2 linked regions of the Homo sapiens genome follow. The protein of the gene in region 1 interacts with the protein of each later gene in a biochemical or structural test. Each region holds a gene or a part of one and is shown on either strand. Other genes may lie near its edges. The genes, in order: DHX15 and RBM5.

Evidence for each region.
Region 2: the proteins of DHX15 (region 1) and RBM5 form a complex in vitro, tested with the Homo sapiens proteins (one study listed by IntAct).

The regions. Positions count from the first base shown.
Region 1 is NC_000004.12:24,526,874-24,532,740, reverse strand, and holds the end of DHX15 (ATP-dependent RNA helicase DHX15), read left to right. Parts: intron 1-2,970; coding exon 2,971-3,140; intron 3,141-4,699; coding exon 4,700-4,817; 3' UTR 4,818-5,266; downstream 5,267-5,867.
Region 2 is NC_000003.12:50,112,673-50,119,562, forward strand, and holds the end of RBM5 (RNA-binding protein 5), read left to right. Parts: intron 1-710; coding exon 711-872; intron 873-1,277; coding exon 1,278-1,427; intron 1,428-1,507; coding exon 1,508-1,579; intron 1,580-2,755; coding exon 2,756-2,935; intron 2,936-3,233; coding exon 3,234-3,308; intron 3,309-3,349; exon of another isoform or gene 3,350-4,401; coding exon 4,402-4,499; exon of another isoform or gene 4,500-4,577; coding exon 4,578-4,707; exon of another isoform or gene 4,708-5,576; intron 5,577-5,658; coding exon 5,659-5,784; 3' UTR 5,785-6,349; downstream 6,350-6,890. UniProt on the Homo sapiens protein: Component of the spliceosome A complex. Binds to ssRNA containing the consensus sequence 5'-AGGUAA-3'. Regulates alternative splicing of a number of mRNAs.

The sequences.
Region 1 (5,867 bases):
ATGTTGGTACATCCAGTTTCTTTGAGTGAATTAATATACTAAGAAATTTTAAGTATTTAATGAGTAACAAATTAATGTACTAAATGGCTAAGGTAGTCTAGTTATACAGGAATCGTTTTTAGAATTATTTTATTAATAGAGCCTTTGTTATACAAAATGGAAACTTTGGCTACTTTCAGATGTGATTAGGCACCTGTTTCTTCAGGAATGTGAATATTGATCAGTGCATTAAAGTTTCTCTGAATCTAGGGCTTAATTGGAAATACATTGTCATAACAGAGTACTAAAAGGAAGCAATTGAGCGGATCCAAAAGTACATACAGTTGGCTTTAGTCTTTATCTAAAAACTAAGCACCTCCAAATTCAAATATTCAAATACGTGGATTTCATTTACAGTCCTCTACAGAGTGATCATTGGTAATTATGACCAAGACCCTTGCGTACTGCAAAAGCCAAAAACGTCTGTTGAGTAGCAATAAAGATGAAACATAATTTAAAAGGTTTTATTTAGTTTAAGTATGCTGTGTTAACGGCTATAAGAACAGAAGTAAAACTTGTCAAGTAAATACTGTGAACAGTTATTTTAAGGTGTTTATAAAATAAGAGAAACTTTGAGAAAAATGCAAGAAAATTTTGTGGTGATAAAATTGAAAACAAATCACCTGATTTGGGATAAGTCTCTTCTATCTCTTTTCTGTTTGTTCATTCTCTCTTTGGCTGTGTCTTTTAAGCACGATGTGGCTTACCCTTAAGGCCAGATGGGCTCAGTAGCTAGAATATGAGCCTGAGGACACTCAGTTTCAGAATCAAAAATCAAAGGAGATTGGTGAGATGTCTGTATTTGAATCTAAGTAACACAGTGTTTATTGTGGCATCTTATTATATAATAGGCTTATTAGAGTTTGGTGAATGATAGGTATGAGCATTCTTTCTTGAAACTCTTAACTATATTCTTAATATTTGATATGTTGTACTGGCTTCTCTTTGACATGTTCTGTTCTTTTTTAGGGGGAGGGGATGGGGTGAGGGAGGCAATGTCTCACTCCCAGGCTGGAGTGCAGTGGTGCAATCACGGCTCACTGCAGCTTTTACCTCCCTGGGCTCTGGTGATCCTCCCACCTCAGACTCCTGAGTTCCTGGGACTACAGGCACGCACCACTATGCCTAGCTAATTTTTGCCTTTTTGTGTGTGTAGAGAGAGGGCCTCGCCACGTTGCCCAGGCTGATCTTGAACTTCTGGCTTCAAATGATCCTCCTACCTCGACCTCCCAAAGTGCTGAGATTACAGACGTGAGCCACCAGGCCTGGGTTGACATGTTCTTAAATTTGCTTTTTATATTTCAGAAAAAAACTGGCCGGGCGCTGTGGCTCACGCCTGTAATCCCAGCACTTTGGGAGGCCGAGGCGGGTGGATCACGAGGTCAAGAGATCGAGACCATCCTGGCTAACATGGTGAAACCCCGTCTCTACTAAAAATACAAAAAATTAGCCGGGCGCGGTGGCGGGTGCCTGTAGTCCCAGCTACTCGGGAGGCTGAGGCAGGAGAACGGCGTAAACCTGGGAGGCAGAGCTTGCAGTGAGCCGAGATAGCGCCACTGCACTCCAGCCTGGGCGACAGAGCGAGACTCCGTCTCAAAAAAAAAAAAAAAATTGATGAAACTATATTCAAGCATTATACTTCTTAATTATGTAGATTAAAATTTGTTACAAACAGCTAGGCACCACAGAGTGTGCTTGTAGTCCTAGCTACTAGAGAAGTTGAGTGGAGAGCAAGGAGCGTTGAAGCCAGCCCAGGCAACATAGGAAAACCCTATCTCTTTTTAAAAACAAACAAAAAATTTATTAGAAACAGCATGCATTATAGTACCTGACACCTAATAGGTGTTTAGTAAATATTTCGAATGAAATTGAGTTTCTTTTCTATTATTCATGCTCATTCTTTAAGCACAGAATATTAGAATTGGAAAGGGAGAACTGTCCATTTTGATGAGTATCACCAGTCAAGGTGTTACCAAAAAAAGAAATGAGAGGGAAGCACGTGCAAGCTCTTTTTTTTTTCCCATTTTTATTTTCCTGTCTTTGTAGGTTACCTTTTTCTTTTCCTCTTTGCCCTCTTTAGTTTTCTACCTTATTTTTTATTCTATTTCTTTATTTTCTTTTTTGAAATGGAGCCTCTCGGTCTGTCGCCCAGGCTGGAGTGCAGTGACTTGATCTCAGCTCACTGCAACCTCCGCCTCCTGGGTTCAGGCAATTCTCCTGCCTCAGCCTCCTGAGTAGCTGGGATACAGACACCCGCCACCACGCTTGTCTAATTTTTGTACTTTTAGTAGAGATGAGGTTTCACCGTGTTGGCCAGGCTGGTCTCGAACTCCTGACCTCAGGTGATCTGCCTGTCTCAGCCTCCCAAAGTGCTGGGATTACTGCACCTGGCTTTAGTTTTCTACCTTAGACATGAATGTTCTGGTAATTGTCTGCTCATAGTTGGCGCCCAGTGCTGAAGAGCCTGCTCTAGATGGTCTCAGGCAGGAAAGATCAGATAGTAAATGTTGGGCTCTGTGGACCCATGAAGTCCTTGTCAAAACTACCTAACACTGCCTGCTCTTGGAGCATAATAGGTATAGACAAATGGGCATGCCTGTGTTCTAATAAAACTTTCCTTATGGATACTGAAGTTTGAATTTTACATGCTACTCATGCTTCACGGAATGTTTTTTGTATGATATTTTTTCTTTCTAATTAAAGATAAATAAACCATTTTGGATTCACAGACCTTACAAATAGAGGCTATGAGTTGGATTTGGCCCACAGGCAGCAGTTTGCTTATCTCTGCTTTTATCAGACAGTGATAAATAAGTATAGCCATAGAATGAAAAGTAAAAGGGAGGCCTGCCTCTTCCTAATTATGTAGGTAGCTTTACAACTAGCAAGTCAGAAGCATTGTATTAATAATATACTGGGTTTTGGTTTCAGGTGGCACATTTAGAACGAACAGGGCATTACTTAACTGTGAAAGATAACCAGGTGGTTCAGTTGCATCCCTCTACTGTTCTTGACCACAAACCTGAATGGGTGCTTTATAATGAGTTTGTTCTAACAACAAAGAATTACATCCGGACATGTACAGATATCAAGCCAGAATGGTAAGTACACCTTTTGTTCTAACAGTTTTTTGTTAGTACTTTGCTCAAAATGGAACCTGACTGTTGCTAGAGTCATGGCCTTGCATTCACTCATTGAGAATTTATATTTCAGTGTGTAGGTATGAGGGAATTGACTGGATGGTGTGATTAATCTTTCACACCCTTCCTTTGTTAAGTGGACAGTGGGATTGTTGATATTTATGGGCAGGATTTGAAGCCAAATGTGAAGTTACATTTGAATAGCATGAAAAGTTTCTTCAGGGGCTGGGCATGGTGGCTCACACCTGTAATCCCAGGACTCTGGGAGGCCAGGATGGGAGGATCACTTGAAGCCAGGGGTTCAAGACCAGCCTGTGCAATATAGCCAGAATCCATCTCTACTAAAAGATATATAGGTGTGTACAAAAATTAGCTGGGCATGGTGGTGCTGCACGTCTATAGTCCCAGCTACTGGGGAAGCTGGGCAGGAGGATTGCTTGAGCCCAGGAGTTTGAGGTTGCAGTGAGCTATGATCATGCCACTGTACTCCAGCCTGGGTGACAGTGAGACCCTGTCTCTCAGACATACTTTTAAAAAAGGGTTTTTTTTTAATTTTTTTAATTTTTAGAGTTTCTTTGGAGCCATTCTCTTGCTGTTGTGATTCTCAAGTCAGTACTGTTTCTTGCTTGCAGAAATCTGTTTTTTTTTGTTTTGTTTTGTTTTTTAACATTTTTTTTGTCCCATTACAATTAGCCCTCAACTATTTATTATTTATATATTGGTTTTTAGGAACTGTGCAGGCATAAAAATGATAGCTCTTTGTGTTTTAACATACTAGCTTCTACAAAATGTAGAGTAAGAACGGATTGTTTTATTTTAAGCAAAATAACCCTCACCTTCATGGTTTTTTGTTTTATTTATGCCAGAATCTATTCTATAACCTATGACAGGAAATGTCAGCCAAGAGTAGTGGGACTGAAGGCACATATTCTAGGTGCTGTCACCGCTTTATATTGTGCAGCTGCTTTCTTATACGGATTTGGGACTTTTGACACTTAAATTGTGTAGGACATTACCATTTTATCTTAAACGCTTTGTTGAGAAAAAAATTATATAGCTAAACTTTATAAAAGATTTCAGTCAAGTGTATTTTGGGGGTATAGAGTTACAGTTATTAAAACATTGAAAATGAAAAGATCCAATCATTTGAATACCACGATGTTTCCTACACAGAACCTGTTATATATTACTATATCCTTGGAGTGGCAAATTAATAGTGTGCCAGAGTAAAGAAATCAGTGACTTTATCTGTTATCTTTACATTAATGTATCTTGAGGGGTTTGTTATTAAGTTTATGGTAAGTCCAACATCAGAAAATTCACATCTTACTAAATAAAATACTTAACACATTTCTAAAAGTGCTATTTGTAAGGATTAGTTATTTGTATTTTTCTGAGACTTGAATTCATAGATTTGCCTTGGTTCATCAGTATATTAATGAATAATGCCTATCCTATTAACAACTCCAGTACTTCAATTAAATGTTAATTTGGAAATTTTTCTGCCCACTTCTAAACAGGTTGGTGAAAATTGCCCCTCAATATTATGACATGAGCAATTTCCCACAGTGTGAAGCAAAGAGACAGTTGGACCGCATCATTGCCAAACTTCAATCCAAGGAATATTCACAGTACTGAATTCAGTGCTTAGAACTGAAGTTATTGAGAGGACAGCTTTAAAAGATGAATGAACTCAAAAGTTCGAGTTGTGCTCTTCACGTTGGTTCGATAATGGCCTTTATTTGAAAGCTTTTTAATTTTTCTTTACAGTAAATATTCCATTCTGATTTCATAAATTAAACATTTATGCCTCCCTTTTGTGTTGACACTGTAGCTCATACTGGAAAAGTCGATCAATGTTTTGCAGTTTATTGAAAGTAGTTCTATATATAACAATGTTATAAGCATTTCTTTAGAAATGGTTGAAAATGCTTCTAAAATGTGATTATCGACCATGGTATGCATGATCGTTGTAATTGTTGACATTCCTTTTAGAAGTTGTGAAATGTTACAACTTGTGCTTATGTAGACACAATCTTCTGTCTCAGTACAGAGGCACTGACTTCAATAAAGTCTATTTATACTAATTTTGGCCAAAGCCCTTTGGTATCTTTGTTCTAGTCTCTAAGTATAGTTGTTTTTCAAGTGTGGAGCTTTTTTATTATTATAATTATACTGTTACTACATATTTAGTATCTTTCTACCAGGAGTACTCCTTAGGAAAAGTAGCTGTTAAAGCAGTATTTTTAAGAGCATGGCTTAGCGCTTTGTTAGGTTAATCAGGATGTGATCGATCTAAAAGGGGTAAAATGTGTGTAGTGATCATTTGAAACTGGACCCCAAAAGAGAGAATAATGAAAGGAGAGCTCTCTACTTGTCTTTCTTAGAGTTCCTTTCATAAGGCTCATAATTTATTAACTACATTTTTGTCAGATGTTTTTATTATACTTCTAGCTTCTCAAACACGTTTATTAGTATTAGGTAAGAGGAAAGCATATTTTAGATCTCAGTTTAACAAAATTCTTAGTGATGGAAGTTTTATGCAGTATACAAAATAATTTGTATAGTGTGTTAAAATGTACATTTGACCTTCCATTTTCTATGACAGGCAGTAGACAAGTTGAAAACTTGTCTACATTCATTTTGGAATGAAAATTGAGGTGTTTTATGTGGCCCATAAAATGTTTT
Region 2 (6,890 bases), on another chromosome or scaffold:
TGGATGGGCCCAATGATGAGCTGTTGTCATGGCAGATGTCTGAACTCCATGACACGCCCACCTGTTCTGGCTGCCTGGTTTATGTAAATAGTCTGTGGAACAGAGTGAGACAAATTGCTCTTTGGGTGCCCTCTAGGTAGGCCCAGGGATTAAATTAATGGGAACTAGACTTTTTAAATTTTTATTATCATTTTTTTTGAGATGGAGTCTTACTCTGTTGCCCAGACTGGAGTGCAGTGGCATGATCTTGGCTCACTGCCACCTCCTCCATCTCCCAGGTTCAAGCAGTTCTCTTGCCTCAGCCTCCTGAGTAGCTGGGATTACAGGTGTGCCATCATGCCCAGCTAATTTTTGTATTTTTAGTAGAGATGAGTTATCACCATGTTGGCCAGGCTGGTCTTGAACTCCTGACCTTGGGTGATCTGCCCACCACCACCTCCCAAAGTGCTAGGATTACGGGCATGAGCCACTGCTCCCGGCTGGGAACTAAACTTTTTAAAGAAATCATATTCTATTTTTACTCTAGCAGTGTCACACCTCTTTGCTAGGTGGTTCATCACCTTTACTTATACCAAGGTGTGCCCAGGGTCTTTTCTGGGCAGGAAATATCACTAGTCCACAACATACTTTATCTTTTTTTTGACAAAATATGTAATCGACTGACATAGCAGAAAGTCTGCATTAATTGTTTTTTGTTTGTTGTTTTCTAGTACTACTATAATTCCTTGACCCAGCAGTACCTTTACTGGGATGGGGAAAAAGAGACCTACGTGCCAGCTGCAGAGTCTAGCTCCCACCAGCAGTCGGGCCTGCCTCCTGCAAAAGAGGGGAAAGAGAAGAAGGAGAAACCCAAGAGCAAAACAGCCCAGCAGGTTAGAACATGACCCATATTTCTTTCATTGAGGTATTGGGCTGAACTCTTAGTTTTGGGGTTGTAGCATTTATGTCAGTATTATTTGGATTCTTAAAAATTGGGCTTCACATTTTATTCATACTAAGTTCTTAGAGCATTTTGCAATTTGTTATTGTTACCATATCTTGACTGTCAGCCTGTGTACTTAGGGAAAAAAGCCCTGGAAATCTCAAAGCTTTTCAAGCAGTATTTATGAATGACTTTGGTTATATGTGATAACATCTAATGGAAATATTTGTAGGTGGAAGTAAGAGTAAAAGGGGTTTGTTACAGGGCATATAGTTGAGATAAGATCCTTAATGGCTCATTCTCATGGCACAGGGGATTAAATATTTTTTTGTTGGTGTTTGTTGTTTGACATTAGATTGCCAAAGACATGGAACGCTGGGCTAAGAGTTTGAATAAGCAGAAAGAAAACTTTAAAAATAGCTTTCAGCCTGTCAATTCCTTGAGGGAAGAAGAAAGGAGAGAATCTGCTGCAGCAGACGCTGGCTTTGCTCTCTTTGAGAAGAAGGTAATAGCAGGAATGGCCAGTATGTCATGATGGGAACTTACCTAAAACTTGAGTCTCATGGCTTGTCCTCTGTTTCCCAGGGAGCCTTAGCTGAAAGGCAGCAGCTCATCCCAGAATTGGTGCGAAATGGAGATGAGGAGAATCCCCTCAAAGTAAGGGAGTACCACCAGTGTTTTAAAGACCCTATCTGTGGTTTGTGTCTCACTTTAAGGCTCAACTGCATCTTGGCTAATGTGATTCCTACTTAAAACTGAATGTGATCACTGTTGATGGGTATTGGAGCAGTTTCTGCACATAGATTCCATGTCGGGGCTTTGTTTTCTGTGAGAGCAGATGAGATGGAGTGATGAAAGAAGCTTCAATTCCTAAGCTCAGTTAATTAAGTTTCATTGCATCTGTGAGTGGAGAGTTTTAATGGTCTGGAAAGAGAAAATTAAGACAAGAAAAAGCTTGTTTTACTAGATAGATACTGGTCTGGGTGGGCCATTATTCTGATATGTTGTATTTGGGATTTTTATTTGTGGTCAGTGGTTTGAAAATAGTCACTCAGTCTAGGCAACATTGCAAGACTTCGTCTCTACTGAAAATTAGAAACAAATTAGTTGGGTGTGGTGGCTTGCATCTGTACTCCTAGCTACTTGGGATGCTAAGGTAAGAGAATTGCTTGAGCCCAGGAGATCAAGGCTGCAGTGAGCCACTGCACTTTTTGGGGATCATACCATTGCACTCCAGCCTGGGCAGTGAGCAAGACCCTGTCTCATTTAAAAAAAAAAAAAACAAAAACAGTCTTGGCACAGTGGCTCACACCTGTAATCCCAGCACTTTGGGAGGCCAAGGCAGGCGGATCATTTGAGGTCAGGAGTTCGAGATCAGCCTGACCAATGTGGTGAAACCCCATCTCTACTAAAAATGCAAAAGATTAGCCAGGGGTGGTGACAAGCGCCTGTAATCCCAGCTACTTGGGAGGCTGAGACACTTGAATCACTTGAACCTGGGAGGTGGAGGTTGCAGTGAGCTGAGATTACGCCACTGCACTCCAGCCTGGGCAACAGAGCGAGACTCCTTCTCCAAAGAAATAGAAAAAGGTAGTCACCCAGGAATCCATTTCTTAGGCTCCAAGAAGGTTGGTACCAGGAGGCTGTCAGGCCTAGCACTCAAGGACCTGACTGCTCCACGCAGTTGACAAAATGTGATTCATTACTAAAGTGTGACATGCAGTAATGGGGATTTGTTAACATTTCGGATGAGGCATTACTTTATCCAGGTACATAGCCACCGCCATCTTCCTATTGTACATTTCCAGTGACCTGTCCTCCTTTTGTCTCCAGAGGGGTCTGGTTGCTGCTTACAGTGGTGACAGTGACAATGAGGAGGAGCTGGTGGAGAGACTTGAGAGTGAGGAAGAGAAGCTAGCTGACTGGAAGAAGATGGCCTGTCTGCTCTGCCGGCGCCAGTTCCCGAACAAAGATGCCCTAGTCAGGCACCAGCAACTCTCAGACCTTCACAAGGTGGCCATGCTTCTGAGCTGATCTGAGGGGGCGAGGGGAGGCAGTGAGACAATTTGAGTGCCCTAACAGTCCTGACGGTTCCAAAAATACCTGCCATCTAATGATGGCCTTACAGAAAGCTGTTCCCGATGACAGTGGACGGAGTCTGGCAGCTCCACACACATCAAACTATAGTTTTTATGTGATTGTGTATTGTTTGGGCTTTGGCTCTTAAAGTACAGTAGATGTTACTAATGTTAGGACATTTCAAATTAAGATGGTCTGAGTCCTTACTGTGTCTTTCAAATCTTTTGTGTAGCAAAACATGGACATCTATCGACGATCCAGGCTGAGCGAGCAGGAGCTGGAAGCCTTGGAGCTAAGGGAGAGAGAGGTGAATGGGAAACTGTGCCACAAGGAAGAGGATATTGGGATAATTGCCTTTAGCTTTTATTTGTAGCATTTAGTTCCAGATCCCAGGGGCAGGGTAGGAGGATTTGTCATACCCTTGTCATCTGACCATTGTAGTTCATGTAGCCTAGACCCAGCCTCTGTGTGCCTTGTGAGCCTCACATTGTCCCTTCATCATAAGGGTGCACAAGGCAGAAGCACACTGCCGAGACTCTCTCACAGCAATGCCAGAGCTTGCTGCTTAAATACGCTGGATTTTGTTATGGAGAGAGTGGTCTAGTTTGGCCTGGCCAGGGAAGCCTTCATGGGCAAAGAAGTGCGCTTCAAATTAATCCCAAGGGACAGCAGGACGTGAGGTTATTGCAGGTGATATGAAAGGAAGGGTGGGCAGGGCATGGCAAGCAGATCTGGGAACAAAGGCAAGAGAGAAGCCTGTGACACAATAATGGGCAAGCAGTTAGTGCTGGTGGTTGGGGCAGGTTGGCGGCCAGGTGGGCAGGGATTTAAATGCAAATAGAGGCCTGTGGTTTAGAAATGAGCAAGTGGGTTTGAAATCTCCCACCTGAGATATTTCTGAAGTGTTTGTAGTTAAGGCTTTTGCTTTTCTTCTCCCCACACCCTTCCTGCCCTACTATCTATGGTTCCACCTCCCCAGCGACTGCTGAACAGGTCTCTGGAAGCCTCCTTGATGTTGGAGGTATGCCTTTCCAAATGTTGGAGGTATGCCTGTCCAAATGCTGAGGAGAACGGGCAACTCTGCCTTCCTCTTCGCAAGCTGTACCCACTGCCCAGTGGGCTGGTTGAGTAGCTTGACAGAGGGTGGCTAATTAAATAAAACTGCTTGTTGGAGACATAGTTCTGCCCCTGGTTCCACACAATTCATATTTACAAATTTAACATTTCAGATATGACTAGGTATGATGATGGGAACAAGGGAATTTGGTATTTCAGAGCAGTCTAAAAAAAGCATTCTTCAGATTTAAAAATACTTGAGGGGATAGTTTTGAATAGGTGCATTAGACGGTTACAGGTTGAAGTCTGTGAACATTTCCAGCAGTGTTTTTTCTCCCATGTAGATGAAATACCGAGACCGAGCTGCAGAAAGACGGGAGAAGTACGGCATTCCAGAACCTCCAGAGCCCAAGCGCAAGAAGCAGTTTGATGCCGGCACTGTGTATGTGATGTGCACATTTTCCAGTTCGTAAGCTGGGGCCCTGGCTGTTTTAAGTAACTGTGTGTTTGCCACTGGCAGGAATTACGAGCAACCCACCAAAGATGGCATTGACCACAGTAACATTGGCAACAAGATGCTGCAGGCCATGGGCTGGCGGGAAGGCTCTGGCTTGGGACGAAAGTGTCAAGGCATTACGGCTCCCATTGAGGTAAGCAGTGGGGTCAGGTCTTGATGTTTGCCAGGCTTACAGGCCGGTTCCAGAGATGAGATCAGAGCACTCATAGAGCCTGGGAGCCAGGAGCAGCTTTACCTTAGCATGAAGGGGCAGATTACAGGCATGAGCTCACACCTGTAATCCCAGCACTTTGGGAGGCCGAGGAGGGTGGATTGCCTGAGCCCAGAAGTTTGAGACCAGCCTGGGCAACACGGTGAAACCCCGTCTCTACTAAAATACAAAATATTAACTGGACGTGGCAGCGTGTGCCTGTAATCCCAGCTAGTCAGGAAGCTGAGGCAGGAGAATTGCTAGAACCTGGCAGGAGGAGGTTGCAGTGAGCCGAGATCACGCCACTGCACTCCAGCCTGGGCAACAGCGACTCTGTCTCAAAAAAAAAAAAAATTTAGTAGGGTTTTCACCCATGATAAGAAATCTTTAAATTGATCAGAGCCCACATTGAGGCATCATATCCCAGGATCGGAGGCCCCTACCCACTGGCCTTCTAGGCAGGAGCTCCACCCGTAATTGCCCCTGCTCTGTCCTGGGAGCACAGCTTAGGTCAGACTCTTGTAGACCATGTTCATCCTGTTTATGTGAGTTCTGCTGACATTGAGCTATCCTGTATAATGTGTGCCTGTAATTACCATACCTTTCCCAGACCTTCAGAGGAATACTTTGGGGCCCTTTCCTAGGCGTGGATGCTTGCTGAGCAGGCATTGAGGGGTGGGTGATTTGCTTCATCTGCCTGTGTTCCGTAGCCCATTTTATTCCTCCAGTCCTTATACTTGCTCCTGGTCTCTTCTGGAGAAATCCTTGTCTTCATATACAGTTTTCTCTCTTCTGTCTCCTGGTGGGTGGTCCTGCTGGGTAAGGAGTGGGCATGGTGAGAGGTGGAGCAGCCCATACCCTACCTCCCAGCTGACAGTCTCTGTGCTTTCCCAGGCTCAAGTTCGGCTAAAGGGAGCTGGCCTAGGAGCCAAAGGCAGCGCATATGGTTTGTCGGGCGCCGATTCCTACAAAGATGCTGTCCGGAAAGCCATGTTTGCCCGGTTCACTGAGATGGAGTGAGAGAGAGAGAGAGAGAGAGATGACAAGGAGCACAAGAAGTGGTCCATCTCCCGAATTCGCTGTTACCGCCTGTCTCTTTAAGGGCATGCCTTGTGCTGTTAATAGATCTTAGGGTGAACCACTTCATTCTGCAGGGTTCTCCCTCCCACCTTAAAGAAGTTCCCCTTATGTGGGTTGCCTGGTGAATGGCCTTCCTTCCCGCCAGAGGGCTTGTGAACAGACCGGAGAGGACAGTGGATTGTTTATACTCCAGTGTACATAGTGTAATGTAGCGTGTTTACATGTGTAGCCTATGTTGTGGTCCATCAGCCCCTCACATTCCTAGGGGTTTGAGATGCTGTAGGTGGTATGTGACACCAAAGCCACCTCTGTCATTTGTTGTGATGTCTTTTCTTGGCAAAAGCCTTGTGTATATTTGTATATTACACATTTGTACAGAATTTTGGAAGATTTTCAGTCTAGTTGCCAAATCTGGCTCCTTTACAAAAGAAATACCTTGAGAAATGGGTGTCCTGTGTCTCTTTATTCTTGGGTGGGTAGGTGGGTCAAGCATGTCTGAGCCAGTCAAGCCTGGTGATGAAATCAGTTTATTTCTTGCCCCCATCACCACGTTCTGATTGATTGATTGATTGATTTTGAGGCAGGGTTGGCCAGGCGTGGTGGCTCACACCTGTAATCCCAACACTTTGGGAGGCCGAGGCAGGTGGATTGCCTGAGGTCAGGAGTTTGAGACCAGTCTGGCCAACATGGTGAAACCCTGTCTCTACCAAAAATACAAAAAAATTAGCCAGACGTGGTGGTGTGCACCTGTAATCCCAGCTACTCGGGAGCCTGCAGCCTCGACCTCCCGGGCTCACGCGATTCTCCCACTTTAGTGTTCCAAGTAGCTGGGACTACAAGCACATACCACCATGCAGGCTAATTTTTTAATTTTTTACAGAGATGGGGCCTCACTCTGTTGCCCAGGCTGGTCTTGACATGTTCGGATTTTTAAATTCAAGAGTTTAACATGTTTTAGCCGGGCGTGGTGGCTCACGCCTGTAATCCCAGCACTTTGGGAGGCCGAGGCAGGCGGATCACCTGGCGTTGGGAGTTCAAGACCACCC